4 linked regions of the Homo sapiens genome follow. The protein of the gene in region 3 purifies or fractionates together with the protein of the main gene of each other region. This does not show direct contact. Each region holds a gene or a part of one and is shown on either strand. Other genes may lie near its edges.

Evidence for each region.
Region 1: the proteins of PSMD9 (region 3) and RAI14 purify together in Homo sapiens (affinity purification with mass spectrometry; 2 studies listed by BioGRID and IntAct, with this or other methods). This does not show direct contact.
Region 2: the proteins of PSMD9 (region 3) and PSMD5 fractionate together in Homo sapiens (co-fractionation; 2 studies listed by BioGRID). This does not show direct contact.
Region 4: the proteins of PSMD9 (region 3) and AKT2 purify together in Homo sapiens (affinity purification with mass spectrometry; 3 studies listed by BioGRID and IntAct, with this or other methods). This does not show direct contact.

What each region holds. Positions count from the first base shown.
Region 1 is NC_000005.10:34,826,712-34,833,458, forward strand, and holds the end of RAI14 (ankycorbin), read left to right. Parts: intron 1-3,020; coding exon 3,021-3,086; intron 3,087-3,976; coding exon 3,977-4,054; 3' UTR 4,055-5,901; downstream 5,902-6,747. UniProt on the Homo sapiens protein: Plays a role in actin regulation at the ectoplasmic specialization, a type of cell junction specific to testis. Important for establishment of sperm polarity and normal spermatid adhesion.
Region 2 is NC_000009.12:120,832,567-120,840,528, forward strand, and holds part of PSMD5 (26S proteasome non-ATPase regulatory subunit 5), read right to left. Parts: intron 891-7,962; coding exon 746-890; intron 1-745. UniProt on the Homo sapiens protein: Acts as a chaperone during the assembly of the 26S proteasome, specifically of the base subcomplex of the PA700/19S regulatory complex (RC).
Region 3 is NC_000012.12:121,912,078-121,919,047, forward strand, and holds the end of PSMD9 (26S proteasome non-ATPase regulatory subunit 9), read left to right. Parts: intron 1-3,778; coding exon 3,779-3,867; intron 3,868-4,206; coding exon 4,207-4,234; 3' UTR 4,235-6,220; downstream 6,221-6,970. UniProt on the Homo sapiens protein: Acts as a chaperone during the assembly of the 26S proteasome, specifically of the base subcomplex of the PA700/19S regulatory complex (RC).
Region 4 is NC_000019.10:40,232,467-40,240,428, reverse strand, and holds part of AKT2 (RAC-beta serine/threonine-protein kinase), read left to right. Parts: intron 1-318; coding exon 319-384; intron 385-1,455; coding exon 1,456-1,524; intron 1,525-2,337; coding exon 2,338-2,460; intron 2,461-4,043; coding exon 4,044-4,172; intron 4,173-4,324; coding exon 4,325-4,539; intron 4,540-5,078; coding exon 5,079-5,166; intron 5,167-5,281; coding exon 5,282-5,384; intron 5,385-6,477; coding exon 6,478-6,557; 3' UTR 6,558-7,962. UniProt on the Homo sapiens protein: Serine/threonine kinase closely related to AKT1 and AKT3. All 3 enzymes, AKT1, AKT2 and AKT3, are collectively known as AKT kinase.

The sequences.
Region 1 (6,747 bases), on a different chromosome or scaffold from region 3:
ACCGACAGGACAGTAGGAGGAGGCTATGTGCTCACTCATACCCTAACTTTTTACCCCTTCTCCTTTTTCTGCAACAGTCTTTCCCCATCTCTGGCAGTGGCAAGAGCTTTTTCTTGTTAGGGGCCAGGATCTCTAGTAGTTGCATCTCTATATATCTGAAGCTGCTTCTTGGCCCCTCTCCTTATTTCACCCAGGAAAGCCCTTGCTTATCTAAATTTGTTTCCTGGGTCCATTGTAACAAATCACCACAAATTTGGTTTAAAACAACATGAGTGTATTATTTTACAGTTGCATTGAACTGAATTCCAAAATCACTTTCACTGGACTAACTTCAAGTTGTTGGCAGGGCTGGTTCCTCCTCGAGACCATAGGAGAAAATCAATTTCCTTGCCTTTTCCAGTACCAGAGGCTGCCTGCATTCTGTGGCTCATGGCCCCTTACTCCATCTTCGAGGCACATCACTCCAGCATCTGCTCAGTCTTCCCATCTCCTCCTTCAGCCTTTGATTTTCTTGCCTCCCTCTTATAAGGGCTCTTGTGATTACATCTAAAGCCCACCTAGATAATCCACGATAATCTCCCTCTCCATCTCAAACCCTTAATTTCATCTGCAAGATGCCTTTTGCCATATAAAGTTTAACATTCACAGGTTCTGGGGATTAGGATGTGGACATCTTTCAAGAGCCATTATTTAGCTTACCACAATATCTGTTAAGGTTTGAGTTGGCATGGGTACATTCCGTTTTCTACCTAAAGTCCAGGGTTAGTCTGTCCTGGACTGTCTCTAGCTTCCATATACAAACAGAACATGGATTTGATGATTTCTTCGGAATAGACCTAACTGTAGTGAATTCAGGTTTCTGCAGTCCTTACTCTGGCTGGCCACAAAGTTCAATGCTAGCTTTGGAGGAAACAGCTCTAGAAATGGTGGATACTTAGGAGAAGCTGCTCTTTACTGTGTTCTGCAGGTCATTCTTCTCCTGATAAAATGGTATTACAGACTTGTAGATAAAGTGCTATTGGTTTATACAGTAATTCTTATAATTACGCAACATGTGTTTGTTGAGCTCTTACATCAGTATTATACATGGGGCTGATGATATAAAATGAGTAAGACTCAGTCCCTGCCCTCAAGGAGTTTATACTCTATATAAGTTATCAGCAAAGAGATGCCCAGCATACCGTGGGCATACAAAGGAAATGTGTCTACCCAATCTTGCTGAGTCATGAAAAGGTTCCTACGGGAGTTACACTTGTGCTGAGTCTTGAAGGCCTGAGTAAGAATATGTTGTTACTTAGCAAGGACTGACATATGGCACTAGCTGGCTTTTGGGAACCTTGGTGAGAACCATTCCAGTGGAGTGGGGAGGAGGGTAGAATCTGGACCGCAGTAGACTGGCTGCTAGAGAAGTAAGTAAGTAGATAGGTATCTGGTGGGGCTAACCAGTCGCAGTAGGGGTTGGGGGAAGCCTGAAGCAAGCTTGCTGGAAAGATGGGAAGTGGTGGTTAGGGTGTGGGATGCTTTCAGTTGAGATTTCAGAGGTGGTAATGATAGAGGCAGGGCTACAACCATGACAGGAGTTGCTGAACTGAAGAGGAGCATGTTATTAAAGCTGAAGTTGAGGAACTGAGAGGTCCAGGTGTTAGATGGATCATTCACACAGATATCAAAGCCAAGCGAATGATGACAGAGGCAGTGATAGAAAGGAAGCCAGATCAGAAGATAAAATCATAAATAATTGAGTAGAGGTTGCTGAAAGGTGGGGAGGGAACAACACAGAGAAATGCCAAATGTGCCTTCTTATGATGTGAACTTAAAGGACGGGTTTTAAAATGTCCCTTAATAACAGGAAAGATACCTCATACTCTGACACTGATGGGGGGAAGGAAGAATGGGTATTATGGACTTTTGTACATTTTTGAAGTAATCCATATATGATGGTCTCAATTTTCATGATGAATTAGGAGGACAGGTTCTTAGAACAAGAGTTTCAGAGATAAGACCCTTGAAACAGCCACTGAGAGGAACTGGAGTAATAGCTCAACAAGGAGAAATAGAAGCATCAGCGGCTGTATTGAGGAACCACTGGAGATTGGGGCCACCACCCTCTTTGCCTTCTTAGTACACTGATAGCTAAATAATTGAGCTCCCCAAGGATTATACAATGCTGGCCATATAGTGGGTAATCAATAATTCCCTTAAAAATAATAGGCTTTAAAAATTAAATTAGTACATATTTGGTCATTGTAGAAAAGTTGAAAAATAAAGAAAACTCTAACAAGTTCCTATAAATAAAAATTTTCCATAATTCAATAACTCTGAGATAATCACTTTTTACATTTGATATATTTCCTTGCAGTATTTACATTTAATGTAGCTGTATTTGCATAAGTATATGTACATATATACACACACATATATACATATATACACACATATATAGACACACATACACACACACACACATACACACACACATATATATATATATTTTGAGACAGAGTTTTGCTCTGTCACCCACGCTGGAGTGCAGTGGCGTGATCTCGGCTCACTACAACCTCTGCCTCCTAGGTTCAAGCGATTCTCTTGCCTCAGCCTCCTGAGTAGCTGGGATTACAGGTACTGACTACTACGCCTGGCTAATTTTTGTATTTTTAGTAGAGACGGGGTTTCACCATGTTGTCCAGGCTGGTCTCAAACTCCTGACCTCAAGTGATCCACCCACCTCAGCCGCCCAAAGAGCATATATTTTTAAAACCAAATGTGGGGTGATAATAACTCCTTTTTATACAGTTTTTTCTAGAGTTGACATACCAAGACTTTTTTCCCTAAGATGATTGACAAGTATTCAGAAATACACAAGCCAGTAAGGCCACAACAATTTTAGAAGCTTCCAGTGCTAGCATAAAGTGGAGGGGACCACTTGGGTAGCATTTGGCTGCAGCTTTCTCATAGTTTTTTGTTTTTGTTCTTTAAAGATCTCTTAAGCTCATTAATAATGTGAAATATTCCCTTTCTAGGAATGCAAGAAACAACACCAGGAGGTCATATCAGTTTACAGAATGCATCTTCTGTATGCTGTGCAGGTATGGTTATGCCCCTTGAAGTATCTGGACATCCTAAAGAAATACGGCAGCAGATGTTGACAGAACTCCCATCATTTAACTAGGAGAATGAACAAGAATTAGAGGAGAATCCTTTTCACTGGAAAGCCTGAATATGCCTTTTGCATTGCTTTGGATTCTGTGTCAGGAGCCTTGTGCCCTGTTTACCAGGAACAGCCCCATCTTTTAAAGCAGGGCCTCACTCTGTCATGCAGGCTGGAGTGTAATGGCATAATCTCGCCTCACTGCAGCCTCGACCCACGGGCTCAAGTGATCCTCCCACCTTAGCCTCCCAAGTAGGTGGGATTACAGGTACCCACCACCGTACCTGGCAAATTTTTGTATTTTTGTAGAGATGGGGCTTTGCCATGTTGCCCAGGCTGGTCTCAAACTCCTGAGCTCAAGCAATCCACCCGCTTCGGCCTCCCAAAGTGCTGAGATTACACGCATGAGCCACCATGCCCCACCCTCCCATCATTTATTGAGGAATGAGGGATGATGTGGTCCTCCACTGGGAAGACGGGGGCTTTATTTTCCAGCAATGCTGATCTTCTTAGTTACCAGTGCTGCCTTGGCTCTATGATGCTTGGTGTTCTGGCTGCTGGACTCACATTTGCAACTGAGACCCCAGATAGCTTTTGCTGAGGGTTTTGGTAGACACTGCCACCTCATCTTCCAGCTGGATAAAGGCAGGGCCCTTTCTTTGACTCAGTTCCTCATAGAAATTTGGGAAATGATAGGGCTGACATTCCTGTGAAAGATGTGGGAATTAGCCCAGGTCTTCATTGCAGTCAGCCATCTCATTCCCCAGAGAAGAAAGTGCCATGGCTTAATTTAGGTTCTAATGAGTATCTTGTGTTTGAATATCCTAGGGCCAGATGGATGAAGATGTCCAGAAAGTACTGAAGCAAATCCTTACCATGTGTAAAAACCAGTCTCAAAAGAAGTAAAGTGGATTCCTTGGCAGGACACTGCCCCTTGTCATCTGTCTTTGTGTTAGATCCAGAGTTGTCGGCAGCCGCTGCCATTGTTCTCATTCGTGGTATGCACTGTGGCCTAGCGTAGCTTCTTCCCTTTCCAAAGGTTTCTGAGGACTTCTCCCAGGAGAAGACTGCCCGCCTCAGAACTGCTTAGAGACTTCAAACCAGCAGAGGTGAAAGTCCCTGTCATCCCTTCAGATTCCAGAGCTGGGATCAGCCATGCCCAGAGGTCTGGTCCTGATGCTGGCAGGGGGGCCCCCTCCTCCATCCCTGACTGGCTGAGTGGCTTTATCACCACCGAGTGATGTGCTGAGGCCTCCTGCAGTGAATGCTCCTTCCATTCCTGTACTCGGGCAGTGCCATTCAGCACAGGAGAGCTCTTTTTGCCTTTGGCTTTCAATTCCAAAACATGATTTAATTTCTAACTAAATTAGTATGGCACTAGTTATGAAGTATCTGCTTAAAACCCTTCATCATGATATCCTGTGGATTTAAAAACTCTAATTCCATGTTTTCTTCCCATCTGCCTTATATATCTCATCACCCTGCTTATCAATATTCAGTTTGATGAGCACTATTAACTAAAATATGAAACTTAAAAACAAAAGCAAGTTGTCCTTAAAAGTTCTTTTTTTAAGTAAATTGTTGACATACTGCAAATTTTCTATGCAAACTTGCCTCCTGCTGTTATCTGTGAAGCTCAGGAAATCCAAACATTTGTGTTTCAACAAGGGACAGTAAACTGTGTGTTTACAGCCAAAAGAAATGCCTCATAGTTCTTAACCTCAACTTTTGTAGAAGTATTTTTTTCTCTGTAATATTTTTATTGGCTCATAAAGATGTTTTCATATCTGAACTCCTAAATAAGTGAAATTACAGTAGATTATATTAACAAAATACTTTTTAGGTAGCCATGCTTGAGACTTTTTAAAAATATAACTTTTTCCTTAAAGTTTTCAGCTATAGCAAAAGGTAGTTATGTATGCCAGACCTAATATGAGCTGCCACCAACACCCCTAGAACTTTCAGCCATGGTGTCTTCAGAATTGTAGCGCATTTCTGAATCTAGCAAATCCTCCTTTTACCCGTTGAATGTTTTGAATGCCCTGACTCTACCAGCGCCCATAAATGATCTCTAGAAGGACTGTTAGTACCAATCTGTTTTTCAACTTTGAAGCTAAAAACCCTGATATGGTAATATTATGGTGCATAGCAGAGGTCTCGGAAAAAAAATATTTCTGTTCACTTTACTTTCAGGTTAAAAATGTTTCTAACACGCTTGCAACTTCCCTTATGGCATTAATCTTGTTGAGGGAGAGAGACAGAATCCTGGACTCTCCAAAGTATTTAACTGAAAGTAGGGCCTGCTCTGACAGGGCCCATGTCCCACAAGGCTGCTTGGCCTCAGTGGGTGCTTGGCTGTGCTGGATGATATGTTGATCTGTATTGGATAAGGACCAATGACAGCAAAGCAAAAATGGCTTTAAAGCTTGGTGTTACTTTTCTTAAGTTGTTTAATTATAGTTAAGCAATTTCAAAAATGCTCCAAAGAAATGTGAAAGGACCTTTTGTCACAGCACTTCAGAAAATACACAACAGCCCCTTCTGCCCCCGCACAGAAATGCTGCAGAGTATATAAAACTTGAGACATTTTTGTAGGATGCCTGACGAGGTGTAGCCTTTTATCTTGTTTCCGGATGCATATTTATTACGAGTACTCTGGTTAAATATTGAAAAGTTATATGCTGTAGTTTTTAGTATTTTGTCTTTGTAATTTACAGAAGTTATTGGAGAAAATAAACTTGTTTCATTTTGCATTTCTGGTGTTGATTTTTGGTGTATTCAGAAGCATATCTGCGTGGCTTCTGAAGATCAGTTCAATAGCATTTCAGTGTAATAGGTTTTCTAGTCTGTGCTATGCTCAGCTGGTATGAGTTGTCCGCACTGTCTCACACAAAGTCTCACATCATTTCCTTTTCCCAGCTCTTGGATTCGCCCTGAGCTCTGCCCTGAGTATCAGCCGCTTTGGGGCAGTTGAATCACAGTTGCCTTTAATTCACAATTGCCTCTCATTTAATCTGCAGTCTGTTTAACTGTTTGGAAGCCTCCGCTGGATTTTTTTTCCCTCTTGCTTCTTGCTTTTTTTGAAAAAGTAATACATACATATGTAAAAAAAAAATCCAGATACATTTTCCTGCCCCATTACAAAGACAATTCAATTAATTCCTGACAAAACTCTTGTCAGGTGAATTCTGGCAAGGTTAAAATCATAATTAAAATTGTTGCAGGTTATAATCATAATCAAAATTACATGAAATAGGTACAGCTACTTAAGAAGTTAGCATTGTTTATCATACTCCAATGTAACAAGGCCATTTCCCTTCACTTACAACATGATTCCACCTCTACTTCAGTTTCATTGTGCCTTCCTACTATACCCTGAAACTTTATTTCAAAGAAAGCATGTGTGTGATACTCAACTGAACCTTTTATTTCAACTGTGGCCAACCAGACAACTCAGAAGGTGACTTCATGGGGACACTCAGCTGGAGAGGAAACTGAGATAAACCCAAACCAGTCATCTCTGATGGACAGAAACGCCTCATAAGGCAAAATTGGGATATGAAAAGAAACTCTCCTGCCTCCACAATTAGATAGCAGCT
Region 2 (7,962 bases), on a different chromosome or scaffold from region 3:
CTGTATTTGTGTAGAGACAGGGTTTCACCATGTTGGCCAGGCTGGTCTTGAACTCCTGACCTCAGGTGATCCGCCTGCCTTGGCTTCCCAAAGTGCTGGGATTACAGGCGTGAGCCACTGTGCCCAGCGCCCTTTTTTGCTGAATAAACACAGAAAAGGAAAAACAGTAGTTCAGTATCTACTGAGTAACTGTTTAGCTCCTAACATTTCAACAAGATAATCCTTAGCAGCAGCTCTTCACTCAAATAGCAAGGATGCTTTGGTTACCAGGATGATAAGAGTTACTGTCTTAATTGTTGGTTTAGTGACCTTTACAATAGCATTTGGTTCATCCAGTGTAAAGAATCTAAAATGGCAGAGAGCTATTTGAACACATAGGAATCTTTTTCTTTACACTAGGAGCTCCTTGAAGGAAAGTAATCAGTTTTGTTTATCTTGGTAACTCTAACAGCATATGGCACCATGCCTGGCATGTAAAAGGAACTCAGTCAGTATCTGATTAATGAATGATTTAGATGGTACTTAATGGAACTTCTTTCTTTAGCTTGTATCTCCCAGGTTATAGTTAGCTATGCACATTGGAATAGACCACACATTTCCTAGGGGGAAAGAGGGAGCAGAGGAGAGGGGGAGAAGGAAGAGGGAAGGAGAGAGAGAAATACTGTGCTTTCTTCATCTTTCTGTCCCAGTGCAGAACCTGGCCCAGAGCAGGTGGTCAATGTCGGTTCCTAGTAGAATTTCATACCTGGGAAAGAGTGAGGATTTTTACAGAATCATCAGGGTGAATTAGTCCCCTCTGCAGGTCAACCCTGAGGTTCCGGGCCACGTGAACCGGTTCCATAGCTTGGAGCAATCTCTCCAGAATGGATACACACAAAGTAGTCTTTTCCCTGAAGGAGACATCATAAATCTTATTAGTTCATATCCTGCCCAGGTAGGAAGTAACAACCTAATAATAGCTGAAGCTTGCGTCAGCGTCTCCTCCACACAGACTTCTTTTTGAAACAGCAGCTTTCACTCACCTACTAAACATTTGCTAAGTACCTATTATGCGCATTGCCTGTGCTGGGGCAACAGAGAAGAATAAGATATGCACTCTAGTCTTCTTTTTTTTTTTTTTTTTTTTTTTTGAGGTGGAGTTTTGCTCTGTCGCCCAGGCTGGAGTGCAATGGCCTGATCTTGGCTCACTGCAACCTCCACCTCCCAGGTTCAAGCAATTCTCCTGCCTCAGCCTCCCGAGTAGCTGGGATTACAGGGGCCTGCCACCATGCTGGGATAATTTTTGTATTTTTAGAGACGAGGTTTCACCATGTTGGCCAGGCTGGTCTCGAACTCCTGACCTCAGGTGATCCACCTGCCTCGGCCTCCCAAAATGCTGGGATTACAGGCTTGGGCCACCGCACCTGGCCTTTTTTTTTTTTTTTTTTTTTTGAGACAGAGTCTCGCTCTGTTGCCCAGGCTGGAGTACAGTGGCACGATCTCTGCTCACTGCAACCTCCGCCTCCTGGGTTCAAACAATTCCCCTGCCTCAGCCTCCCGAGTAGCTGGGACTACAGGTGCATGCCACCACACCCGGCTAACTTTTTGTATTTTTAGCAGAGACGGGGGTTTCACTGTGTTAGCCATGATGATCTCGATCTCCTGACCTTGTGATTCTCCCACCTCAGCCTCCCAAAGTGCTGGGATTACAGGTGTGAGACACCGTGCCTGGCCCGATATATTCTCTAGTCTTAAGGAGCTCAATACAATGAAAGATACAGAAAAAAAAGGCAACTGTAATCCAGATAAATAAACGCTATGGGCTAAGACTAGAAACTATAGGAGCTTAAAAAAGAACAGAGGGTACAGGGAAGGCTTCCCAGAAGGGTAACATCTAAACTAAATTTTAAGAAAAAGTAGGAGTTATCCAGAAGAAAAGTGTTCTAGGTAGAGGGAGTAGCAGCACATGAAAAGGCAGAGAGGAATAAGACATAGTATTATACTTTCAAGGAACAAGTAGTTTGGTATGATTGGGGTCAGAATGGGAGAGAGGTGGTGAGAAGGTAAAAGGGTGAGGTGAAGGACAAGAACTGAAACTGAAAAGATGCACAGAAGCCAGATTCTAACAGGTATTTTATGTCATGCTTGGAATTTAGACTTCTTCCAGAAAATCAATGGCAGGCCATAAGTGGTCTTAAAGAAGTAAAATGACGAGATCTGACTTATAGAATTCACTCTGCACCAGTGTTAGGGGAAGAATTTTCAATTACAAGGCAGTAAATGGTGAGAGGTGATGAAGGAGTAAACCAGGGGAGCAGCAGTGAGGATAGAGAGAAGAGGGAAGAACTATGTAAGAGAAACTGATGACTACCAGTGGTAGATACAGAAGATGTTTTCAGAACAATTTTCTTGTCTCTTAATAGACACTACAAATAAATGGGCTAATATATTGTTAGTAGTAGTACACAATTCAACTGATACAACCTTTTGGGTAGGTAACTACATGATACAAATGAAAAGCCTTAAAAATGAACATACTCTTTTAATTCAGGAATTTCACTTTGCATAATTGAACCTAAGGTAGTATTAAGAATGTTTTTATACCAAAGATAATTGAAAACATGCTATTTTCACAAAACTTGTACACAAATGTTCACAGCAGTGGAAACAATCCAAATGTCCACCAAGTGATGAAAGGATAAACATGTGTTATGTGCATATAATGAATATTATTCAGCCATAAAAAGCAATGAAGTAATGATACATATCACAATATGAATAAACCTTTAAAATATTATGCTAAGTGAAATAAGCCAGACACAAAAGGCTTCCTTTTGAGAATGATTCTGTTTATATGAAATGTCCAGAATAGACGAATCCATATAGAAAGTAGATTCCGCTAGGCTCGGTGACTCACGCCTGTAATCCCAGCACTTTGGGAGGCCATAGCAGGTGGGTCACCTGAGGTCAGGAGTTCAAGACCAGACTGGCCAACATGGTGAAACCCCATCTCAACTAAAAATACAAAAAAAATTAGCTGGGTGTGGTAGTGGGCGCCTGTAATCCCACCTACTTCAGGAGGCTGAGGCAGGAGAATCGCTTGAACCCAGGAGGCGGCAGTTGCAGTGAGTCGAGATAGCGCCATCGCACTCCAGCCTAGGCGACAAGAACGAAACTCTGTCTCAAAAAAAAAAAATAAAATAAAATAAAGTAGATTCCTGGTTGCCAGAGGCTGGAGGAACGGGGAAGAGGAGGAATGAGGATACTTACAAGTATGGTTTTCTTTTCCTTTTAAAAAAAAAATGTGATTACAGGTAAAATTTACCATTTTAACCACTCTTAAACGCACAGTTCTGTGGGAATAAGTACATTCACTTTGTTGTCCAGCCATCACCATCGTCCATCTCCAGAACATTTTCCTCTTCCCAACCAGAAACTCTGCATCCATTGAACACTCCCTATTCTCCCCTCCCCAAGCACCTGGCAACCACCATTCCACTTTCTGTCTCTCTAGATTTGACTACTCTAGGTATGTAAGTAAAAGCATACAACATTTATCCTTTTGTGTCTGGTTTATTTCATTTAGCACAACGTCTTCAAAGTTCATCTGTCAGAATTTCCTTTCTTTTTGAGGCAAGATGTACAATATCCCATCATATGTATATACCCCATTTTGTTTATCCATTCATCCCTTCATAGACACTTTGGTTGCACATGTGGGTTGCATTGCTTCTGTGCCTTTTAAAATTTTAGCCAATCTAATAGTGTGCAGTAGAATCTCACTGTAATTTTAATTTGTATTTCCCTATTTAATGTTGAATATCTTTCTACGTGCATATTTATCATCTGTACTTTTTTTTTTTTTTTTTGAGATGGAGTCTCGCTCTGTTGCCCAGGCTGGAGTGCGATGGCGTGATCTTGGCTCACTGCAACCTCCACCTCCTGGGTTCAAGTGATTCTCCTGCCTCAGCCTCCCGAGTAGCTGGGATCACAGGTGTCTGCCACCAAGCCCAGCTAATTTTTGTATTTTTAGTAGAGATGGGGTTTCACCAGGTTGGCCAGGCTGGCCTCGAATTCCTGACCTCAGGTGATCCACCTGCCTTGGCCTCCCAAAGTGCTGGGATTACAGGTGTGAGCCACCATGCCTGGCCCCATCTGTACTTCTTGTTCAAATCTTTGGCCCATGTTTTAATTGGGTTATTTATTTTCTTGCTATTTAGTTTTGAAAGCTCCTTACATATTCTGAAAAGAAGTCTTTTATCAGATATATTCTTCACAAAGATTTTTCTCCATTTGTGACTTTTCTTTTCATTCTCTTAACTGTATGTAACCTTCGAAGAACCGATTTTTTTTTTTTTTTTTGAGACTGAGTCTCACTCTGTTGCCCAGGCTAGAGTGCAGTGGTGCGATCTTGGCTCACTGCAACCTCTGCCTCCCAGGTTCAAGCGATTCTCCTGCCTCAGCCTCCCGAGTAGCTGGGACTACAGGTGCCTGCCACTATGCCTGGCTAATTTTTGGTATTTTTAGTAGAGATGGGGTTTCACTGTGTTAGCCAGGATGGTCTCTATCTCCTGACCTCGTGATCTGCCCACCTTGGCCTCCCAAAATGCTGGGATTACAGGCGTTAGCCACCGCGCCCAGCCAATTTTTGTATTTTTAGTAGAGACAGGGTTTCACCATGTTGGTCAGGCTGGTCTGAAACTCCTGACCTCATGATCCGCCCACCTCAGCCTTCCAAAGTGCTGGGATTACAGGCGTTAGCCACCACCTAGCCTGAAGAACCGAATGTTTAATTTTGATTAATTCTACTTTGTATCACTTTGTTCTTTTTTTTAGACAAGCTCTCTCTGTCACCCAGGCTGGTGTAGTGGAGCAATCACAGGTCACTGTAGCCTCCACCTCAGCCTCCTGAATAGCTGGGACCACAGGCATGAGCCACCACACCCAGCTCAATTTATTCTTGTATAGATCATGCTTTTGGTGTCATATTAAAGAAGTCTGTTTAACTCAAAGTCATACATTTTTTTTTCCTGTTTTCTTCTAGAAGTTTTGTAGTTTTAGGTTTTATATTTAGGTCTATGATCTACTCTCATACACTGCTGGTAGAAATGTAAAATACTATAACCACTTTGGAAAACAGTTTGCCAGTTGCTTAAAAAGTTAAATATACACCTACCATACCATCTAGCCATTTCATTCCTAGCTATTTACTCAAAGAGAAAAGAAAGAATATTTTTATGTAAAGACTTGTACATGAATGCTCACGGCACTGTCATTTGTAATATCTCCAAACAGAAAACAATTCAAATCTCAAATGTTCACCAACAGGGGAATGGATAAAAAACTGTAGTACATTCATACAATGGACTTACACTCAACAATAAAAAGGAATGAACTATTTATTCATGCCACATAGATAAATCTCAAAATAACTATGCTATGTGAAGGAAACCAAACAAAAGAATACATAATGTATGACTCCATTTGTATGATCCCTTCCCCCCATGTCTGGCCAAAATAAAGGGCAAGTTCATCTACAGTGAGAGAAAGCAGATCAGTGGTTGACTGGTTGAAACAGGGAGAGATTAGCAAGGGGTATGAGGGAGCCTCTGGGAGTGAAAGATACATTCACTATCTTAATTGTGGCGATGGTTTCATGGGTATATACATATGTCAAAACTTGCCAACTTGTACGTTTTATTAAGTGCAGTTCATTGTATATAAATTATACCTTTGAAAGCTGTTTAAAAAAAAGTAGTGGTACGTTAAACTGCACAGTGCACAAATTTCAGATCCTATGTGACCCTTCTTTGCCAACGAGCCAAAGAGTTAATGCTTAAAATTAGTCTTGTTTGATTTTCATGTTCTAAAGCAGTAATCTTAGGACTTAAACTCTCTCAAAAAAAACTGTCAAGATTCTAACTTACATCTGCAAGATCAGATTGTGAACCAACACACAACAACTTATGTGGTTTAGCCAGGATAACAGCAAAGTATCTGAAGACTGCCAGATACTATCCAGAGAATTATTCCCACAAGGTGCAGTTGGTATCTACTATGTATCCAGTTCTGAATTATTCTGTCTTTAAATTCCATTAAAATTGTTCCCTAAAGCACTGCTCCTTCATTCAGCAAACTATCTTCCCCATGGACCTGAATCCTCAAATTCTGCCTCACTTCAGTTCCTACTGCATCTCTGCTGTCAACTTGCGGTATGACCTCTGGAAGTCTCTTCATCTCTAATAGGAGAGGTTGGACAAGGTGGCCACTCTAAACTCTGTGAGTCTCAAATTTAATTGGGCGTATACTGCATTATGTGCTGGGCCCTAAGAGGGATGCAGACATGAACAAAATGCGGTCACTGCCTTCAAAGAATTTACAAACTGGAAATAGACACACAGAGAACTATAACATAGGTAATAGTGTCAATTATCATTAACAGAAATAACAATAATGTCCTTTAGCAGATCTAAGGAGCAGTCATTTGCAACTGGAATAATTGAGAAAAATATTTTGGAGGAGATGGCTCTTTAGTGGGCCTAAAAGGATGGACAGAATATGGACAGACAGCAAAGTATTTCAGTTAGAAAGGCTGGTATGAGTAAAGTTAGGAAAGTGCAAGTCAGGCTTAAGGAAAAATAAGGGTGCCACATGGTAGCTGGAGCAGATGAAAAGAAGTGGAGTGGAGGAAAAAAGTGAGGTTGGAAAAGTAGGATGGAAATATACTGTAAAGGGCCCAAATGGCATTCTAAAAACTCACTACAGGCAATGGGAAACCACGGAAAAGATTAGCACCAGCTGACTCGAGATGTATGCTCACTGGGGTTACAAGGTGGGAAGGAATTTGCTAGAAAAGGAATTTGCTAGAAAAGGAATTTCAGAGGTAAGGAGAAGTCAGACTAACACTACAGACCTAGCAATAGGGAAAAAATGAGGGCTTGAATTAAAGAGGAGACAAATAAGAGACATTTCATAGGCAGACCCAAATAATGTTAACTGATAGACATCATGAATGGAGAACACTTACAGAAAAGGAAGGAATCTTAGAAGGTCAGAGCCAAGAAAGCGCTCTGAAATCATCCACTGTTGATTCAGTGGTTCATAATCTTTTCAAGTAGTAAGGTCACTTGAAAGTCTTTGATCACAAACATTTCAAAACTCTTTTAAATGATCAAATTATCAAATACAAAGTGGTTTTTTTTTCCTTTTTTTCCCCAGAATCCAGGTAAGAATTATAAAATGTTTTTTTAATCTTTTTTTTTTTTTTTTTTTTTTTAGACAGAGTCTTGGCTGGGCGCAGTGGCTCATGCCTGTAATCCCAGCACTTTGGGAGGCCGAGGCAGGCAAGGCAGATCACTTGAGGTCAGGAGTTCGACACCAGCCTGGCCAACATGGTGAAACTGCATCTCTATTAAAAACACAAAAAATTAGCTGGGCGTTGTGGTGGTGGCACGTGCCTATAGTCCCAGCTACTCAGGAGGCTGAGGCAGGAGAATTGCTTCAACCTGGGAGGCGAGGTTACAGTGAGCTTACATCCTGCCACTGCACTCCAGCCTGGGCAACAGAACGAGAACCCGTCTCAAAAAAAAAAAAAAAAAAAAAAGGGCCTCACTCTGTCACCCAGGCTGGAGTGCAGTGGTGCAATCTTGGCTCACTGCAACCTCTGCCTCCTGGGCTCAAGGGATCCTCCCCCTCAGCCCTCTAAGTAGCTGGGACTATAGGCACGCACGCCCAGTTAATTTTTTGTTTTGTTTTGTAGAGACAGGGTTTCACCATGTTGCTCAGGCTGGTCTCAAACTCCAAAGCTCAAGCGATCCACCCGCCTCAGCCTCCCAAAGTGTTAGGATTACACGTGTGAGCCACTGCTCCCGGTCTACAAAGTGTTTTTATTATTATTATTATATTATTATTATTATCTTGAGATGGAGTCTCACTGTGTTGCCAGGCTGGAGTGCAGTGGTGCAATCTTGGCTCACTGCAACC
Region 3 (6,970 bases):
TGCCAAGGCTGGAGTGCAGTGGTGTGATCTTGGCTCACTGCAATCTGGACTTCCCAGGCTCAAGCAATCCTCCCACCTCAGCCTTGAGAGTAGCTGGGACTACAGGCATGTGCCACCATGCCCAGCTAATTTTTGCATTTTGTGGTTTTGCCGTGTTGCCCAGGCTGGTCTTGAATTCCTGGGCTCAAGCGATCCCACCCGTCTTGGCCTCCCAAAGTGCTGCTATTATAGGCGTGAGCCACCGTGCCCGGCGCTTTGTTTAGGTTTTGGAGGACCCTCCATTACTGTTTTCCACTGCCGTGCACCGTTTCACATTCCCACCAGTGGTGCACAGGGCTCCATTTTCCCCGCTTCCTCGCCAGCACTTGTTTTCTGTTTCATAATCAGTGTGTGGTAGAATCTCATTGTGGTTTTGATTTTCATTTCTCTTATGATTAGTGACATGGAGCATCTTTTCCTGTGCTTTTTGATCATTTGTATATCTTCTTTGAAGAAATGTCTATTTAGGCTGGGCGCTGTGTCTCATGCCTGTAATCCCAGTGCTTTGGGAGGCTGAGGCGGGCGGATCACTCGAGCTCAGGAGTTTGAGACCAGCCTGGGGATCATGGTGAAACCTGTCTCTGGAAAAAAATACAAAAATTAGCCAGGTGTGGAGGATTGTGCCTGTAGTCACAGCTACTCAGGAGGCTGAGGCAGGAGAATCGCTTGAGCCCAGGAGGCAGAGGTTGCAGTGAGCTAAGGGATTGCATCACTACACTCCAGCCTGGGCAACAGGAGTGAAACCCTGTCTCAAAAAAAAAAAAAAAAAAAGAAAGAAAAAGAAAGGTCTATTCAAGTCCTTTGCTCATTTTCTTTTCTTTTCTTTTTTTTTTTTTTTGAGACGGAGTCTCGCTCTGTCACCCAGGCTGGAGTGCAGTGGCACAATCTCGGCTCACTGCAAACTCCGCCTCCTGGGTTGACGCCATTCTCCTGCCTCAGCCTCCCGAGTAGCTGGGACTACAGGCGTCCACCACCAAGCCTGGCTAATTTTTTTTGTGTGTGTATTTTTAGTAGAGATAGGGTTTCACTGTGTTAGCCACGATGGTGTCAATCTCCTGACTTTGTGATCTGCCCACCTTGGCCTCCCAAAGTGCTGGGATTACAGGCGTGAGCCACCGCGCCTGGCCTTTTTTTTTGTATTTTTAGTAGAGACGGGGTTTCACCGTGTTAGCCAGGATGGTCTTGATCTCCTGACCTCATGATCCGCCTGCCTTGGCCTCCCAAAGTGTTGGGATTACAGGCGTGAGCCACCACACCCAGCCCTTTGCTCATATTCTAATCAGATTTTTTTGTTGATGTTGAGGTATAGGAGTTCTTTATATGTTCTGGATGTTAAATCCTTATTAGATATATGATTTGCATGTATTTTCTTTTTTCTTTTTTTTTTTTTTTTAAGACAGAATCTCACTCTGTCACCCAGGCTGGAGTGCAGTGGCACATTCATGGCTCACTGCAGCCTTGAGCTTCTGGGCTCAAGTGATCCTCCCACCTCAGCCTCCCAAGTAGCTGGGACTACAGATGTGCGTCATCAAGCCTGGCTAATTAAAAAAAATATATGTTTTTTGTAAAGACGAGATCTCTCTTTGTTGCCGGGCTGGTCTTGAACTTTTGAGCTGAGGCAGTCCTCCTGCCTGGGCCTCTGAATGTGTTGGGATTACAGGCATGAGCCACCGTACCCAGCATGTATGTATTTTCTCCTATCATGTGGGTTGCCTTTTCACTCTGTTAATAGTGTCATTTGATACATAGAAGTTTTAGATTTTGATGGCATCTTGTTTTATTTATTTATTTTTATTTTTTTGAGACAGGGTCTCACTCTGTTGCCCAGGCTGGAGTGCAGTGGTGCAGTCACAGCTCACTGCAGCCTTGACCTCCCTTGAGCAATCCTCCTGCCTCAGCCTCCCGAGTAGCTGGGACTATAGGTGCACACCACCATGCCTCGCTAATTTTTATACTTTTTGTAGAGTCAGGGTTTCACCATGCCCAGCCTGGTCTTCAACTCCTGGGCTCAAGTGATCTTCCTGCCTCCCAAAGTGCTGGGATTACTGGCGTGAGCCACCGTGCCTGGATATCGTATTTTAATTTGTAATTTTTTTGGTATGTACTCCCCCTGCTTTAATTTTAATTTTTTAAATTAAAGTACTATATACAGGCTGGGTGTGGTGGCTCATGCCTGTAATCCCAGCACTTTGGGAGGCTGAGGTGGGTGGATCACCTGAGATCAGGAGTTCAAGACCAGCCTGGCCAACATGGCGAAACCCCATCTCTATTAAAAATACAAAAATTATCTGGGCATGGTGGCACGTGCCTGTAATCCCAGTTGCTCAGGAGGCTGAGGCAGGAGAATTGCTTGAACCGGGGAGGCGGAGGTTGCAGTGAGCCGAGATTGTGCCACTGTACTCCAGCCTGCGCGACAGAGAACCCATCTCAAAAAAAAGAAAGTAATACATACATGCCAGGTGTGGTGGCACATGCCCAAAATCCCAGCACTTTGGGATGCTGAGGTGGGCAGATCACTTGAGCCCAGGAGTTTGAGACCAGGCTGGCCAGTATGGTGAAACCCTGTCTCTACTAAATATACAGAAACATTAGCTGAGCATGGTGCTGCATGCCTGTAGTCCCAGCTACTCAGGAGGCTGAGGCACGAGAATTGCTTGAACCTAGGAGGCTGAGGTTGCGGTGAGCTGAGATTGCACCACTACACTCCAGCCTGGGCAACAGAGCAAGACTCTGTCTCAGAAAAATAAAGCAATACATACGCATGGTTAAAAAATTAATGATATGGAAATATATAAAAGTAAACATCTTCTTTTTCCAAAGGACTAGTCCTCTCTGGAAGTAACCACTCTTAACAAGTTTTTCCATGTTCTTCCAGAAAACTTCGCACACTAGAGCAACACAGGTGTCCTTTTAGAAAATATTATCGGCCGGGCACGGTGGCTCACACCTGTAATCCCAGCACTTTGGGAGGCTGAGGTGGGTGGATCACCTGAGATCAGGAGTTCTGAGACCAGCCTGGCCAACATGGCGAAACCCTGTCTCTACTAAAAATACTAAAATTAGGCGGGTGTGGTGGCGGGCACCTGTAGTCCCAGCTACTCAGGAGGCTGGGGCATGAGAATTGCTAGAACCTGGGAAGCAGAGGTTGCAGTGAGCCAAGATTGTGCCACTGCACTCCAGCCTGGGTGACAGAGTGAGACTGTGTCTCAAAAAAAAAAAAAAAGAAAGAAAATATTATCAAATAGGTTCATACTTTGGTGGGGTTTTGGTTTGTTTTGACTAAAACCCTTCATTCTCTGTACTGTATTTGAACAATACCTATTGATGGACATTTCTGGTGTTTTCAGTTTTTGAATTTCTACACAGTCCTGGAATGAACATTTCATTTGTATGTCTCGCTAATTTTTATACTTTTTGTAGAGTGCTGGGATTACAGGCATTTGTATGTCTTGTAATTTGTATGTCATCTTGCAATTGTGTACTATGTACCTTGGATGTACCTTTTAAAGATCGTTGGTGGTGGGACACGTGTTTTTTGAGGAAGATGGTACTGAGGTCAGCACCCTGGCTGCCCTGAGAGTGCAGTGCCACGTTCCCCACCCTCTCGCCAACCACAGGATTATGCTGCAAATGTAAATCTTTACCAATTTGATAGGCAAAAAATGGGATCTCAGCATTTTAGCCTGCATCTCTGAGTACTAACGAGGCTGAACACGAAATGAGCTTATTTTCTTTTCAGAAGCCCCTGAATGTGACAGTGATCCGCAGGGGGGAAAAACACCAGCTTAGACTTGTTCCAACACGCTGGGCAGGAAAAGGACTGCTGGGGTAAAGTATCTGTTTCTGTTCATTCTCACTGGGGCATCATTTGAGTGTTTGTTAAACATGAAGCTGGAGGGGAAGGCTGGGGAGACATTGGGGAATAATGGGAATCCCCAGTTTGCATGGAAACTGCAGATAAATCCTCGTGGTAGGAACGAGACTACAGCTCTAGAAGCAGAGGGAGCCCCAGAGTCTCTCCTGGGAGTCTCTCCAGTTCATTCATGCACTAGGCATTTGCTTTAAAAGAATGAAAGAACATTGGTGAAAAGGTCAGAAGGGCTCAGCCTCTGACCTTCCTGAAGGGAGCCTCCAAACTTACGCCATTCCTTTTCTTCTTTCTTCCAGCTGCAACATTATTCCTCTGCAAAGATGATTGTCCCTGGGGAACAGTAACAGGAAAGCATCTTCCCTTGCCCTGGACTTGGGTCTAGGGATTTCCAACTTGTCTTCTCTCCCTGAAGCATAAGGATCTGGAAGAGGCTTGTAACCTGAACTTCTGTGTGGTGGCAGTACTGTGGCCCACCAGTGTAATCTCCCTGGATTAAGGCATTCTTAAAAACTTAGGCTTGGCCTCTTTCACAAATTAGGCCACGGCCCTAAATAGGAATTCCCTGGATTGTGGGCAAGTGGGCGGAAGTTATTCTGGCAGGTACTGGTGTGATTATTATTATTATTTTTAATAAAGAGTTTTACAGTGCTGATATGACCCTGTTGTCACCCCAGCTGAATTTCTTATGACCCTCCCAAACCAAAGCTCAGATGGGGTCAGAAGAGCTTCATAGAAAGTTGGGCAAAACAGGCTAGCAATTGCAAAGTCAGGCTTTGACCAACATATTTCTTTGCACTGAGGCCTTGCTGCTGTGGATACGGAAATGGTTAAGTACTGTGCTTCCTCAGCAGCTGGGCTGTCAGGGCCATAGTAGCTCCCTTTGGAGAACAGGGAAAGCCTGGAGGCTTCCCAGGTGGCCCAGCGTGGTGTCCTGTCAGCTTCCTCTTTAGGAACCCACCAGAGGGCAGCAAGCTCCTTTCACTTCGCTAGTAAGAACCCCTCCGTTTTTGTGTGTTTTTGTTTTTGTTTTCTGGAGACAAGGTCTTGCTTTGTCACCCAGGCTGGAGTGCAGTGTCGTGATCAAGGTTCACTGAAGCCTTGACGCTGTGGGCACTGCCTCAGCCGCCCAAGTATCTGGGACCACAGGCGTGCACCACCATGCATAGCTAATTTATTTTTTGTAGAGACAGGGTCTCCCTGTGTTGACCAGGTTGGTCTCGAACTCCTGGGCTCAAGCAGTCCTCCTGCCTTGGCCTCCTAAAGTGCTGGGATCACAGGCGTGAGCCACTGCGCCCAGCCCACTGCTAGTTTGACTTTTTATAATTGAACCTCCTGGCTATGCCCTGAGATCAGCGCTATTTTGTAAACCGCTGAGGTATGGATAGGAACGAGTAGATCAGACCTCTTGAAAATGCTTATTCTTCCTCCCTTTTATTTTTTGTCTCTTTTAAGATGGTAAAATGGTTCTCAGGGATTCCTGCCAATACTTTGAATTATTTTTTCCTCTCCATGGTATCAGTGTTCATTTCCCCAGTTCTTGCACACCGCTTTCTGTTTTGGCAGTTCTGCCAGGCAAGCCCTGTGTTCCTTGGGACTGGTTTTGCTGTGGTTGGATACAGATACCAGCTTGCCTTGATGGGATTGGTATTGCTGTGTGCTTCCAGCCACAGGTTCTCACACTCAATTCCAAAGCCTTCCTATTGGGCGAATTCCCTCAAACTCTATTTGACCTGACAGCCATACGTATTCCCCTCTGGTAGCCACAGACATGCTGTGTTTACCAATGTTTGCTGTTTAAATTGCATGTTCTAATTCCACGTATTTTCCAGTCTCTTTTATAAAGTCTCAGACTATAATAAACACAGCTTGCCCAGTTTATCCTTTCTTTTTTATTTTAAGATGTATGCATATTAATCAATTTACCATCACTGGGGCATGGCAGTGTGGGCGGGGAGAATTATTCACATTCTCCTAAAATGACAGCAGCAGAGAGCCTTCTGCCTCAGTGGCTCTGGCTGGTTTCCTGCAGGGGTCCCAGTGGAAACCCGTGTGGCCACCTGTTGCCGTCTTCCATGAGATGTTAGTGGAGAGCCACTTTGACGTGGAATGATCCTAATAGATATAGCCAGACCGGTTTTGCGGAAACGCTTTGTGCTGAGAACCGCAAGCTGGTGCACCCTGTGTCATATCTGCCCCCAGCCAGCTGGAATTGTCTGCAACACGCGGTGCCCGGTGAGGAGGCAGGCAGGACGGTTGTGTGCTGCATCCATGAGACCTGGAAATTCAGTTTGCTTTTGGAAAAGAGCATTGTATCCGAGTTCATACTTCTCCACCCCATCTTGCCAAGGTTGCGGAAAGTAAAAATTGGCAGTATTGGCCGCTGCAGCTTCTTAGGGGACGGGACCATGTGAAAAGGTGGGATCGTGCGAGCGGAGGAAGGACAGAAAAGCGAGGAAAGTCTATGCCGCCAGCGACCGGCAGGAGGCACGTCGGGCACGCTCGTCACCGTTTCCTGGCACGTGACCACCGCCCTGCCCTGTCGCTTTAGGGCCTGTCGCTTCCGGCGGTGGCGGTTGCCATGGGGACGGAGCTTGGGTGGCAACCAGAACTAGGGAGCTGGTGGAGAAGGTGGCGGCCGCTGGAAGGAGGCCCGGGAGGTGGCTGAGGGGTCCAGGCGGCGGGACGACTCTGGCCTTTTGAAGACCGGGGTGGGTGCTCTCTGTAAGTCCGGGGCGGAGGCCACGCGGCCCTGGCGAGGGGGCCCCCGACCTGGCGGGGTCTGGTGCCCCTTGGGGGGCGCTCACCCGACCTGGCCCTTGTGGGGCCTGGGGCGGCCCCAGGGAGACCTGAGTTGGAGGCAGAGGCCGCACCTGGGCTTTAATCCCCTCGCAGAGCCACGCACCTGGCACCCCTGCCCCAAACCCCTGCGGCTCGAACCCGGCTGTCCAGACGCGCCGGCGAAGTTGGGCTCAGTCAAAAGAGGCTCGGTGGTGAGAGCCCTAGACTTGATTCAGAGCAGTGATTTTTCAGCTGGAGAAACTAAGTGCCAGAGAAATCTCG
Region 4 (7,962 bases), on a different chromosome or scaffold from region 3:
GTGGCACCTCGGGGCTCTCGTGATGTCTGTTTGTCTCCCTTGCAGGGACGTCACAGGTGTCTTGTCCCTAGCAGCCTGGTCCTTACATTGTGACATTCCTGCTGACTTTTCACCTGTGGCTTTGAGAGCCACTGATGATCCTCGTCTGGGTCTGCTATTTGCTGAGGGTTTGCAGGCTTTCACTTTTCACTCCTGTGATTTTCTGCATTTATGGCTGGGAATGGAATTGCATTTCACAAGGCCTTGCTCCCCTTCGTCGGGGCGGAGTGGGCAGGTGTGGTGTTGCCCACCAGCCCCTCACCCGCAGTCTGTCTGCAGGATGAAGTCGCTCACACAGTCACCGAGAGCCGGGTCCTCCAGAACACCAGGCACCCGTTCCTCACTGTGAGTTGCCCTCCCCTTCCCAGACAGTGTGAGGCCAGCCTTTGGACAGAGCTCAGAGAGAGAGCCCTAATCTTCTGGTACAAAGCACAGTCTTGGGGTAGGCCAGGCGGGCAGGGCAAGGTGTTGCTGCGCCCTGCCAAGTCATCCGAACCAAGACATGTGGTGGGGGTGAGCAGGCTCGGGGAGTGGGAGGGTGACAGCTTCTTCATAGATGGTGGCTTCATGTAAGCATTTGAACTAACTGAAGATATCACATTATTTGCTGGCTGCTGTCTCTATGAGTTAGGAGCACTTAGCCCAGCTGGTTGAAGTGGAAACATTATTTTTTTTGTTTTTGTTTTCAGATATGCTCATAGAAGCAGATGTGTTAGCATTGTGTTGTCTGTCAGCCTGGACTGAGTAGATGCCTGTTTGGGCTGCAGTCTCCATCAAGGCCAGTGGCCACCAGTTAAATGGACTAGATTGAGGATGGCTTATGTATCATTTCTTTATCTCAGTTGCTGTCCAGGTATCCTATTAAGCCACAGTACTTTTTCAAATAAAATCTTATGAGGTACCTCAGTGCAGAAAACAGAATAGTTGAGTTGTCATGAGCTGAAGGACCCCCTGGTGGGAGTCTCTGAGGAACTCTCTGTAGATCTCCTTAGTGCAGTGGAGAACTACTGTTTGTTGACTGACAGCCTGTCCATCCTGTCATTGAAGTTGGCTCCCAAGCCTTTGCCACTCCCAGCCACAGCAGACATCACTTGTGTGTGTAAGTTGAACACATTTTACTGTAAAAACAAGAGCCATGGTTGCTCAGAACAGCTCTAGTTCTCCCTTGGCTGTGCCTGATGGAGGCAGAGGACAAGATGGTTCAGCATGTAACCCTTTCCTACCGCAGAGCCATGCCTTCACTTAATGCCCCAAAAGGTGCAGCCGGTATGTGAACCCCATATGGCTGACTCCTGGGGGCCCCAGCCAGGGCAGGGTGTGTGTGTGCAGAATAAGCAGGGCCAGGGCCCTGCCCTGGCATGGCTCAGCAGAGCCCTCCTCCCTCCCACCTCCCACCCTGCTGCCTTCATCCCCCAGGCGCTGAAGTATGCCTTCCAGACCCACGACCGCCTGTGCTTTGTGATGGAGTATGCCAACGGGGGTGAGGTGAGCCGCGGCTGCCTTGACTTTGCCCTCTGGGGCCTCCTTCTTTAGGGTGGGGCGGGATGGAGAGGAGCTGTGGGTGAGATGGAAGGGTGGAGGGAAATTTCAGTGTCATCTAGTGCCCCTCTCCCTTGAGGCAGGCGGCTTCGTCTCCATTTTGGGGGGGCAGTCACTGAGGCTCAGAGAGGTTAAGTGGCTTGCCCAAGTTTACACAGCTAGTGAGTGGGTGGGTCAGGTCCAAACCAGTCCAGAGAGGTGTGGAGAGGGCTGTGGGGCGATAGCACTGGGAAGGATGGTCTTAAAGGCCCCAGAGAAAGCCCCCAAGGGTTAAAACCTAGCAGCCCTCCGTTCCCGTGTCCTCTCGAAGTGAATTCCCGCAGCCGCTCAGCTTCCCCTTACAGAGTCGCCTCACTTTTGTCACCCACTCCTTGCCTCGCGCCTTCTCTGTGCAGTGGTTGGCACACCTGCTTTGGGATGCGTGGTTTGCTCATCTGTCTGATCTGGGCTTGCCCATGGCCTATTGTTACTTGGTCATGACGTGTGCTTCTTTTTGCCTCCATGCCATCCTCCCTCCTGTCTCGGATGTCTCTCCCATACCCTCTCATGGGTGCCTCCTGGCAGACCCTCGCCCTTCCCCCCAGCTCTGTGTCACTTATGAGCTTCTGCGCTCTGCCTTGATTGGTCCCTCTAGCTGTCACTTGCTGGTTCATGATACAGGTGTCACCACATCACTGCGCTGGGGCAGGGGGCTGGGAAGGTGAGGGCAGGTGGGTGGGCTGGGGCCTGACCTCCTCTCCCCACCCCTTCCTCCTGCAGCTGTTCTTCCACCTGTCCCGGGAGCGTGTCTTCACAGAGGAGCGGGCCCGGTTTTATGGTGCAGAGATTGTCTCGGCTCTTGAGTACTTGCACTCGCGGGACGTGGTATACCGCGACATCAAGGTTAGTGGCAGGGTGTGCGCCAGGCTGACCTGTGGCATGCACACCACATGGGACTCACACTGGGGAAGTTGGGCTGAGCTTCTGCCCTCATTCGCCAGGCTCCCCACCAAGGTCCAGGGTGGTGGCTGCCCTCATTCGCCAGGCTCCCCACCAAGGTCCAGGGTGGTGGCTGCCCTCATTCACCAGGCTCCCCACCAAGGTCCAGGGTGGTGGCTCTGTGGCAAGTTGCCCCAAGTAGGGACCTTCCCAAGCCTCCCATGAGCGCTCCTAGGCCACTAGCGGAGTGTCAACTGCCACAATACCTACTTTATTTGTATTTATTTATTTATTTATTTTTGAGGAGTCTTACTCTGTTGAGTGCAGTGGTGTGATCTCGGCTCGCTGCAACCTCTGCCTCCCGGGTTCAAGCGATTGTCCTGCCTCAGCCTCCCGAATAGGTGGGATTACAGGTGCCCGCCACCATGCCCAGCTAATTTTTGTATTTTTAGTAGAGACGGGGTTTCATCATATTGGCCAGGCTGGTCTCAAACTCCTGACCTTGTGATCCACCCACCTCAGCCTCCCAAAGTGCTTGGATTACAGGCATGAGCCCCCGCGCCCGGCCAATTTTAGAAGATAGTTTGGCAGTGTCCACCAAAGCTGAGCACCAGTCATCTGCCCTAGCTGTGTGCACAGGAGAAGTGGGGACACACACTCACCTTAGAAAGTGTCCCCCTCACTCAGCAGCAGGACTTACTCTAGCCCCAACTGGAACAACCCAAGTATCCACTGTGAGAGGAACAGTCAGATCCACTGTGGAGTGTTCTCACAGTGGGACGCCACACAGCAGTTAGGAATGAGCTACAGCTACACACGACAGTGTGGACGCGTCTCATAGGCTAATGTCGAGGGAAAGCCGCACAGAGGAGGTGAGTCCACAGTTCACAGGTGTGTCTGTGTGCAGTGGTACAGATGGGAAGTAGAGGTTAATTCTTGTGGGGGATGGTCAGTAACCGGGAGGGGCACACAGGGCCTTCCAGGGGGAGATGCCACCTCAGCCTCGCAAGTAGCTGGGACTATAGGTGTGTGCCACCATGCCTGGCTAATTTTTTTTTTCATATTAAGAAATATGGAGATGGGGTCTCGCTGTGTTGCCCAGGCTGGTCTCAAACTCATGGGTTCAAGCAATCCTGCCACCTAAGTCCCCCAAATTGCTGGGATTACAGGTGTGAGCCACTTTGCCTGGCTGCATATTTCATAATTAAAGGACAGAAAGTCTAGAAAAAAAGAATAGAAGAAAGCTAGTGCCCCCACGTTCGAAATAAGAACCACAGTTCACAATGGGGACGGTGGGTGGACAGGGCCTGGCTCTCGGCTCTCCCTGCCCAGCTGTTCCCAGGTACCATGGGGGTGGGCCAGAGGGTGAGGAGGGTTGGATCTGGCCTCTCTCTGAGCCTCAGAGGGTGAGGCTGTGTGTGCTGGGCCCAGCCTGGCATGGGAGGGTTGATGTCCAGGAGCCCCGGGCATCTTTCCCTGGAAGGAAAGGCTGGGGTGGCAGGAAGCCTTGGGAGCATGCACCTGAGATCCGTTGACTTTTCCAACAGCTGGAAAACCTCATGCTGGACAAAGATGGCCACATCAAGATCACTGACTTTGGCCTCTGCAAAGAGGGCATCAGTGACGGGGCCACCATGAAAACCTTCTGTGGGACCCCGGAGTACCTGGCGCCTGAGGTGTCTGGGGTTGGTGGGGGTAGGAACGTGTGAGGCCAAGGGTAGGGGGATCCCCCAGACCTGTGTGTTTCCAGCCCAGATGCCCTGAGGGCAGGACTGTGATGCCAGCCTCAGGGCCACGGGCCCAGCCCTCATTTCTCCTCCATCCTCAGGTGCTGGAGGACAATGACTATGGCCGGGCCGTGGACTGGTGGGGGCTGGGTGTGGTCATGTACGAGATGATGTGCGGCCGCCTGCCCTTCTACAACCAGGACCACGAGCGCCTCTTCGAGCTCATCCTCATGGAAGAGATCCGCTTCCCGCGCACGCTCAGCCCCGAGGCCAAGTCCCTGCTTGCTGGGCTGCTTAAGAAGGACCCCAAGCAGAGGTGAGGGCTGGCGTCGGCCCCACCCAGCCCAGCGCCAGCTGCTGCCACTGTCCCTGCGGCCTGGAGGGGGCAGCGTCCACAAGGGTGCTCGCTTGTAGGGTCGCAGTGTGTCGTCCCCACACAGCCCCTGAAAACGTCCACAGTGGCACTTAGGGAGTGCTTCCCCCAGGGCAGGCCCATCCTTGACACTGCCTTATTTTATGGGGACACTGAGGAACAGGGCATCCCCTGGGCCTGGCTGGGGCCACCAAACCATATGTGGCAGAGCCAGGATAGGAACGGAGCCTGCCCTACTAACTCCCTTTCTGGACTCAGGGTAAGGCCAGGCAGTGAGGACACGTGGGTCCGGGTTGCTGACTCCCTGGCTCTGACCCTGGGCACGTGAGCTCCCTCCCTGAGCCTCGGTTTCCTCCTCTGTGAAGTGGTTTGTGGTCAAGACAGAATCATTAAGGGCCATACAGGGCCTGCCTGCTCCGAAAGCCCGTCTGCCCGAACCCAGCTGCTCCGGGAGGCAGGTGCTGACGGCCGTCTCTGCACAGGCTTGGTGGGGGGCCCAGCGATGCCAAGGAGGTCATGGAGCACAGGTTCTTCCTCAGCATCAACTGGCAGGACGTGGTCCAGAAGAAGGTGAGCCCCACTGCTTGCCCCAGCAGGACCCTCAGGGACCTGGCCCACTCGTGGTGACCTTGGTTGAGGCCTCCTGGCCTCAGGGTCCCTGAGCCTGAGCTCCTCTCCTCCGTAGCTCCTGCCACCCTTCAAACCTCAGGTCACGTCCGAGGTCGACACAAGGTACTTCGATGATGAATTTACCGCCCAGTCCATCACAATCACACCCCCTGACCGCTGTGAGTGCCTGGGGCCCCCGCGCTGGTGTGCCTGCCCCAGGGGTGGAGGGATGGGATCTGCTCTTAACTCACTTCTCAAGGAGGGCCCTCGAAGGCCCCCGCTTCATGTCTGGGAGATTTCCCCAAGTCTGCTCTCAGGCCCTTTTGCTGTTGGTCCTCTTTGGACCTGGTGAGGCCACCAGGAGCCATTGACTGCAGCACGTTCTGGAGCTCAGTCGGGGGGCTCAGGGCAGGAGGCAGCCCGGTCCCTGAGCCTGGCTGGGTTCACTGCTTTACAGCTGTTTGGGTTCTTACTCTGAACTCAGCCCAGGGCTGGGCTATGCTGGGGACACAGCACTGATTGAGCCAGCCCTGGGCCCTGCCCTGGAAAGCTCCCAGCCCAGGTAGGGTGGGCGGCCTGGAGTGGTCAGGGCTAGGGCGTGGGAGGCCAGGGACTGGGGAATCCCAGAGGAAATATCCGACCTGGCCTGCAGTTAGGGAGGGCTTTCTAGAGGAGGAAGCAAACGTGTCAGCTGGCCGGAGGAATGACGTGTGGGATGCCAGCAATGGGAGAAGCATGGCATAGCTAAGGACCGGCAGCAGCCAGGGAGATGGTGGTGAGAAGAGAGGGCATGGGGCTGGAGTGCAAGGGTCTGGGGGCCACTGGGAGGGGTGGGGACTGCTTGCATGGCGGGAGCCAGCCATGGAAGGGTTTCATACAGAGAGGGACAGGGTTAAAGCAGGCCTTTAGAAAGCCCCCCTGGCTGCCCGTGGAGAATGGATGGGAGGGTGCGAGAGGCAGGCCAGGACAGGGCTCTGGGCTGGACTCTGGCATGGTGGTGTGTGGGGCAGAGAGAAGGTGGGAGGCTCAGAAGGCCCTGCCAGCTGTGGGGCGCATGGGCAAGGGCACAGGAAACTCCCAGAGGAGGCCGCCCGGGGCTCAGGTTTGGGGAGTGGGTCCGTGGCTGAGGGCCTCCATTGCGGAGGGATGGGCCTTTCCTGTCCTGTCCTGTGGGCAGCCCCCGCCAGCTGGGGCCGTTTCCCCAGGGAGTCTGGGCAGGTGTCCCAGGCCCTCTCCTGACTGGTCCTCCCCATCCACCTCTGCCGCCCACAGATGACAGCCTGGGCTTACTGGAGCTGGACCAGCGGACCCACTTCCCCCAGTTCTCCTACTCGGCCAGCATCCGCGAGTGAGCAGTCTGCCCACGCAGAGGACGCACGCTCGCTGCCATCACCGCTGGGTGGTTTTTTCCCCCTAACTTTTTACTTAGCCTTTTTGGTTTGTGTCCCCACCCCCACCTCCTCACCCCCTTTCCAGTTCTTCTTCAGGCCCCTCCCAGACGCACCCCAGCGGCCCCTGCAGCCCCTGCCTCCAGCCTCCAGCCTCACCTTTGTGCCCAGACTCGCATTTGGAAGACTCCACCTCCCGCCCAGGCCTGGGCTGTTGGGCGGTTGGAGATTCAGGTTTTAATCCACACAAGCCCCAGTGAGGGGTGAAGCATGGCGCCTGGGGCCTGCCTGAGTTTCTGGCCTGGGTGTCGTGCTGGTGTCTGCCTCCGCGCTGCTGCATCTGGACGAAGGCTGCCTTCTGGTGGGACGCGACACCCGGCAGACAGTGGTGCTGCCTTCCAGGCCCCGTGGCCTAGGCTCGGAGTGGCCAGGCACGGGGCGGTCCAATCCCCCACCCGCTGTCCCCCTATGGGGGCAGAAAAGCAATAATGTCCAGGGGCAGGCAGGGGCCCTTGGGAGCTGCAGGGCTGGGGGTTAGGGCTGCTCCCTGGTGAATGGAGTCAGATCCTAGGATCTGTACCATGGGGAACCAGGAGTGGCCGGGCTGGGTGCCGCCTCCTGGTCCGGCCTCCTCCCCACCAAACTGTCCTCACCCTATGGATGAGGCAGGAGGAACATTTGGGGCCAAACCTGCCTGCCTCCCAGCCCCGTGCCTTACTAGGGCTTCCTTCCAGCTGGCCTTACCTCCCGCTGGACCCTGGGCCTGGCCTGGCCCCACTGGGGGCTATGGGCTGGGCTCACCCTCTCCTCTGCGGGGGTGGAGGGCCACCAGCCTTGGCTGTTACAATCTTACACCGGACAGTATTGGGCCCCATGGACTTGGTCAGGGAGGGGTGGGGGTGGGCATCTCTGGTACCTATTGGGGTGGGGGGCCTCTGAAAAGGGAGGCTCCTAGGCCCCCCTCACCCCTCCCTCTCCCCAGGGCCCCACGTTCTGCAGCCTTAAGGTTGAACATGAGTGCACGTCCATGTCAGTGCTGTGGGACTCCTGTGCGTGCCTCGGACTGCGTGTGTCGGCGGGACGCAGGCACACGTGGGTGTGTGTGCATGTGTGTTTGTGTGAGGGCAGCGTGTCCTCCAGTGTGCATGGTGTGTGGGCTTGGGCCCCATCCCTGGCCCGAGCATTTCATCCTGTGGGGGAGGGGTGCTGACCTAGTGGGAGGAGCCCCACTGTGATCCATGAGCTGCCCTGCCCACGCCTCCCCTCCCTGTAGCAACACCTCTGGGTGTTTGGAGTTTAGCTTTTGTGGGTTTGCTCTCCCTATCCCATCTCCTGTACTACACAGTTCATGGCAGGGTGGGGAGGGGTG